Linked DNA regions of Homo sapiens: region 1 is linked to region 2. Evidence: fine-mapped expression QTL. Tissue or cell type: whole blood. Region 2 holds a variant in brackets; the other region holds the start of a gene. Each region is shown on its reference strand, or each on the opposite one.

Region 1 (2,710 bases), not on the chromosome of region 2:
TGAAGAGACTGTGCCCTCTTAGGAGGGGTAGAAAAATACACGTCAACAAAAATGTAAACATTTCCATTTTCTTCAAATTCCTGATTTTACCACATGGCTTGGATGAATCACTCTTTGCATCCTCAGAAGATCCCCATCCAAAGATAAAATGTTCAAATTCCTCATTTCACTATTTTACTCATTTTCAGGCTTTCCTGAAAATGAGTCCTGGGTCAATTACTGTAAAAACAAAAGGAGGGTGTATCAGCAACATTTGTCATAAACTCAAATGTGGAGTCAAAGTGCAGAGTTAAGATTTTCACCCCAGGTAACAAACACTGGAAAAACAACGGAAAATTCTGTCCTAACGAGATACTCTTCCACCTGCCTTAGCATGGAATATATCATTTGCTAAGGAAGCTGCACCTCTAGGAAACCGATGCTAGGAGGTTGGTGCTGTATGGAAGACAGGGTTAAAAAGAGGGAATGGCAAGAGTAAGATGGAGGAAAAAAGGAAAGCTGGTGATTCGGAGTAAATTATAAAGGATTAATATAAGCATACAATCTAAGGGCCCCTGTTGGAAAGCTTATTAAGTACAAGAAAACTAAGGCCCTGGGAAATTCCTTAAGACCCAAAGAGTTCTTAAACTTGTAAAAGACTCTGAAGAGTCAGTTTTTGTGGCAGTCTTCTGGGTATGTAGTTTTCTCGATTTTCGTAAGGCCAACTAGAGGGAGACTTTTAGGATTCCTCCAGTGGAGGAGCAACATTGCAGTTTTCACTGGCTAGGAGGGTGTAGTGCTGCCGTCGAAAGGAAAGTGCGCAAATCTGTCCCGGGGGAAGGGCGAAGGCAGTCCCCTTGCGGGAGGAAGGCTGTAGGCCCCGGATTACGAATTACCCGCGCCCCAACACACACTGATGCCCGGTCCGCCAGCGCCCCACACCCGGGAACCTGCCCCAGGCCTAGAGCCAGACAGCAGCGTTCCTGGCCTGCGCGGCGCCGCGGGGCCCCGGCATCGCCTTTCAGAGCCGGTTCCCGCTTCCGAGGAAACTCAGGTGCGGGCCGTCCCGCCGTTGCCTCCCCAGCACCTGCGGCTCCCGGCGCGCCTCATCCCAGCCGCGGCCCCTCGCCCCTCGAGGCCCTCCCCGCTTCCCCCGGCACCCGCCCGGCCCCTGCCCAGTCCCAGCCGTGGAAGCCTCACCTCGGGGGGCGGTCGAAGGCCGCTGTCCCTTCCCGTCCCCGTCTAACCCACCGTTCCCCCCAGGGACCTGAGACGGCTCCGGGGTTGCGTCCGGGACTGGAGCTGCCTCGAGAGCCGCACGGGGAGCGAGAGCTGAGCGATCCCGCGAGACTGCGCCGCCAGGTCGGGCGGGCAGGTCCGGGCTCGCGGCGGCGGCGGCGGCGGCGGCGGCGGCGGCGGCGGGACTGGCCCTGCGCCCGGGCACCGCCTGCGCTGCGCCGCCCGGCCTCACTCCGCGGCCCGCCAGGACCCGGCCCCGGTGAACGGGCTCGGGGTGCCGAGGTCCGGCTGCGGGGCCGGGAAGCCACCTCCACCTTGCCGTCTGTTACGACCCCCGAGGCGCAAGGCTGAGCCCCATCTCGCTATCCGGGTCCGGAGGGGTTCACCTTAGAAGGATTTTTTGAAGCTCTTGGCGCTGGCTCTAAAAGAACCCACTTCCTTGCGGATTTCAGGAGTCAAGAATCCTTAAACGGAGCCAATTTGCTTTGTAAAGCCAATTGCCCAAGTGACTTGAGTTCGAAAGGAGATACTTCCTGGACAACTGCTATAAAAACAACAACAAATACTTTTATTAATTCGGGGAGCCTGGTCACCAACTGGATGCTCAGGTAGCAGTGGGATTCCAGCCCTGGCGGGTCCCACAGTTTTATTGATACAAACCCTAATAGGAAGTTGAACTGCTGTAGAAATCAACCTAGTTTGGGGTACCAACTCTGTCATAGATATTAGATAAATTACCCTAATCTTTAAGGGGCATAGTTTCCTCACAATATAGGAATGACAATAGTTGTAATGATGGTTAACGTTAATTGAGCACTGGCTGTAAGTCAAATAGTGCCAAGTTCGTTACAAGTGTTTACACCTAACCTGTAAGGCCCTCCTATGAAACAGGCAGAATAGTATGAGAAGCAAATGAACTTGTAGAAGTACTTTGAAAAATGCAAAGTAACTTGTAGATGGAGGCTATTCTTGTCAGATAAATCATCCTGTTGCAGAAAAGGAATGTCATATTTCCATACCTAGAAGGACAACCCTGAACAACCAGAGTAAGAGTTTTGGAATCTGTGGGGAAAGACGAATTTGGAGTGGGGAATTCCTCCCCAGTTTTATCAAAAGCTTACTGATGTTGGGAGACAGGTAGTGATGAAGAAATATTAACATCATTAAGAGCTGGATAGTTGATGTATTGCAGAATAAATTTCTATGTAGGAAGAATATTTTCCCCTAAATTTCTAATTTTCTACATTGGAAGACTATTTCTCTCCAGTTTCTACGAACTTAATGAGATCTTTTTGTGATCAGGCTCTAGTGACTACCAGGCAGTGAAGTATCACTAAAAGTATCATTTAAAAACGATACTTTTTAAAATATCGTTTGAAAACGATACTTTTAAAGTATCATTTGAAAACGATAGTTTTGAAATTCAAGTGAATACTTGTTCCATTATTTGGAAGGAAAAATTGTAGTAAGTTGATTTATACAGAAGTAAATA
Region 2 (3,022 bases):
TTTTTGTATTTTTAGTAGAGACAGCGTTTCACCATGTTGGCAGGCTGGTCTTGAACTCCAGATCTCAGGTAATCCACCCACCTCATCCTCCCAAAGTGCTGGGATTACAGGAATGAGCCACTGCGCCCAGCCTAAGAAATGCATTTCTTATAGTTCAGGAGGCTGAGAAGTCCAAGGTCCAGGGGTCCCATCTGAGGAGTGCCTTCCTGCTGGTGGGGATATGAGAGACACCCAAACTGGCTTTTATAACAGACGCCCTGTCATGATCACTAACCCACCACGAGGAGAGCCCATTAGTCTATAAATGCACTGAACGCATTCCTGAGGGCTGAGCCCTCATGATCCAATCACCTCTTAATACTGTGACACTGGGGACCAGCTTTCAACATGAGTTTCAAAGGGGACAAACATTCATGGTACATACAAAACATGTTTTATGAAAAATAACTATAGCTTCCAAAGAACAACAAAACCTTAATGAGAAGAGGGATAATATTGTTTTACATTTTTACAAATTTCTAATGCCCGGCTTAATTGAAAACAACTAGAGTTTCCTATCTGCTTCCACCGGTGGTCTGCTCCGATATGTTGTTTTGGTCGATGCATATGACAAAAAGGCAGCCTCACCAGGGGAAGTGGCTCACGCCCGTAATCCCAGCACTTTGGGAGGCCCGGGGGGGTGCAGATTCTGTGAGTCCAGGAGTTCGAGACCAACCCGGGCAACACAGCAAAACCCTGTCTCTACAAAAAGTACGAAAAAATAAAATAAAATGCAGCCTTACAAGGAGATGCAGTTAGACAAGGGAAAAGTATCTTAATAGGCTCTTCAGATAATTATGGAGATTCCTCTTTGACACCACACCAACACGCAACAAGTGTGTTTTATTTTTCCTTAAAGGCTGTTTGCAATATGGAATGTGAACTGTATCCATGAGCTTCTGCACTTTATGGCTTTAAGATCCATTGGCTTGACTTGTACTCTAAATGGATCTTTTACCCAGGCGTGATCCCGCATCGACCATCTGGAAAATGTTGCTTCACCGAGTTAGGCAGCTCTTGCAAATGTTGTTCAGTCTATAATATCAAAAGCATACGGTTCATCAGCATTAGCACTGGCATCTGATTTATTGGGAGCTCTCGGGCTCACGGTGGCAAAGACAAACTTTCCAAAACTCCAACTTCACTTGACAGCTCAAACTTTATCACTGGCAACAAACACTGTTAGCTGACTTCTTTGAGGTGAGAGGCTAACTTCACTCATTTAGTAAGAGATGTCAGTAATCTGTAAATTATTTTTTTATAGTGTTCCATGAAAAGAGCAGCTAGTTCAACTACAACTCAAATAATCCCTCAACAACCACCCAACTTCAAAATACAATGAAAGTGCTTTCCGTGGACTTGCCATTTTATCAGAGCAGAATCACTGATTTTGTGAAACAGCTCATCTGCTGAGTTGGCCGGGGCACACCCAACACTGTGCCATGAACTGCTGTCATGCGTCTTGTTAGCAACGGGAGAAACTGGGTACCAGGCACAAGGGCACTCCCTATGCTATCTCTGCCACATATGTATACATCTCAAAATGTTCCAAAATAGAAGGTTTGCAAATAAGTATGTCTTTAGGATAAAAATAACAAAACCCTGCCAATACACGATGTGCCCCACCTGCTACCACCAAATCCTTGCCTGCCAACCTCTTTAAGCACGTTCCAAACCCTCA[C/A]CCAAGCCCATCCTCAAGTGTGGCTCTTCCCAAGAGCTGCTGAATCCCAAGCAAGCCATCTGGGTCCAGATCCACCATCAGACTGAAATTCATCTCCCAGGTGTCAGACAAGAGCCCCACAAGCAAGCTCCTGACTGCGTGGGCACCTGCCACGGCCAGTGTTTCGCATCTCCCCTCCCTGTGGCCATCCTCACGGTCCGCGGGGCCTCTGCTCTGCTCCAGAAGCCCCCAGAAGGTGGGCAGGAGGTTTGGCTGGTGTGCATGAGGGCCAGCCCCCAGTGAAGGTGCCCCTTGGGACTGTCTCCCAGGGTGGGGGTAGGAGGTGCCGGGGACACCTGTCACCCCCAGGTCTCCATCTCCTGCCTTGACCTCTCACCGGCACTTTCTTCAGTCCAGGGTTTAAACCCCGTCTAGGCCATGGTCACTCGGATCAGCCATCCCAGCACTTCCACAGCTGAACCCTCCTCACTTCCCTGTTATCTTTCTCCCCAAGAATACTACCAGGAGTCCCGGCCACCTCCCTGCGGCCCCACCCTCATCGCCCTGCTCTCGCCCTTCCGCATCCCGAGGCTCCTCCCTCTCTGACTCCCCCTCAGCCCACCCCCTCACCCGGGACCTGGGCTCTCACCGAGTACCCTGGCACCCATCGCTCCGAAGGGTGGCATCGCCCCTCTGCCACACACACTCCGATCTGGCCGTCTCTTTGTCCTCCAATGCTCCATGTGTCCCTCCCAAAACCACACGGGCTGCAGCAGGAAGACCATGGCCGCTAAGCCCTTCTGTGGCTGACGCCAGCGCTGTTCCTCCAGGGGGCCTCCTCCCCGGAGAGCCTGCTAGTACCAAGCCTGGTCAGCCGCCTCCCTCGCAAGCAGCCTCACACCTCAGCTCCTCTGTGCAGGGCCCAGGCCTCTCCCCATCCAGCCACTGCCTCTCTACACAACCTCGTCTTATTCCTTCCCAGGGCAAACACACTCTAGGTCAGGGGGTGGCACGTGAGGGCCCACAACCCAGCCCAGCTCTCCACCTGCTTCTATGCAGCCTGTGAGCCAGGAATGGGTTTTACATTTTAAAACAGAAAAATAACAAAAGAACAATATTTCATGATGAGAAAATTACATAAAACTCAAATGTCAGCGTCCACAAACAAGGTGCCTGCTTCTCAGCCCAACAGCAGAGTCGAGCGGCTTCACAGTGGCACGAGACATCCCACGCCCCACAAGGCCAGAAACACTTACACTCTGACCCTCACAGAAAAGCGTGCCATCCCGTCCTGGGCCTCTGGGATCCATCAGTGAACTCCAC

What was found. PIP is the estimated chance that this variant, and not a neighbour inherited with it, causes the effect. A credible set is the group of variants that fine-mapping cannot tell apart.
Region 1: it holds the start of FZD6, and the variant in region 2 is the best candidate, but not a certain one, in a credible set for the expression of FZD6 in whole blood (TOPMed, PIP 0.67).

What each region holds. Positions count from the first base shown.
Region 1 is chr8:103,297,465-103,300,174 of GRCh38, reverse strand. FZD6 (frizzled class receptor 6) reads right to left here and starts at 1,277. Exons shown (of 7, transcript NM_003506.4): 1 at 1,180-1,277; 2 at 1-219. The coding sequence starts at 67. LOC105369147 (a long non-coding RNA gene) reads left to right here and starts at 1,357. Exons shown (of 2, transcript NR_148216.1): 1 at 1,357-1,826. RefSeq lists enhancers at 797-846, 700-1,200, 1,201-1,701 and silencers at 840-1,134, 997-1,246, 1,367-1,536, 1,547-1,596.
Region 2 is chr16:87,959,068-87,962,089 of GRCh38, reverse strand. The region is part of intron 1 of BANP (BTG3 associated nuclear protein); the gene reads right to left. Among named protein-coding and RNA genes, the nearest start is that of BANP, 9.1 kb to the right of the region's middle. The variant C/A (reference allele first, on the strand shown) is at 1,721.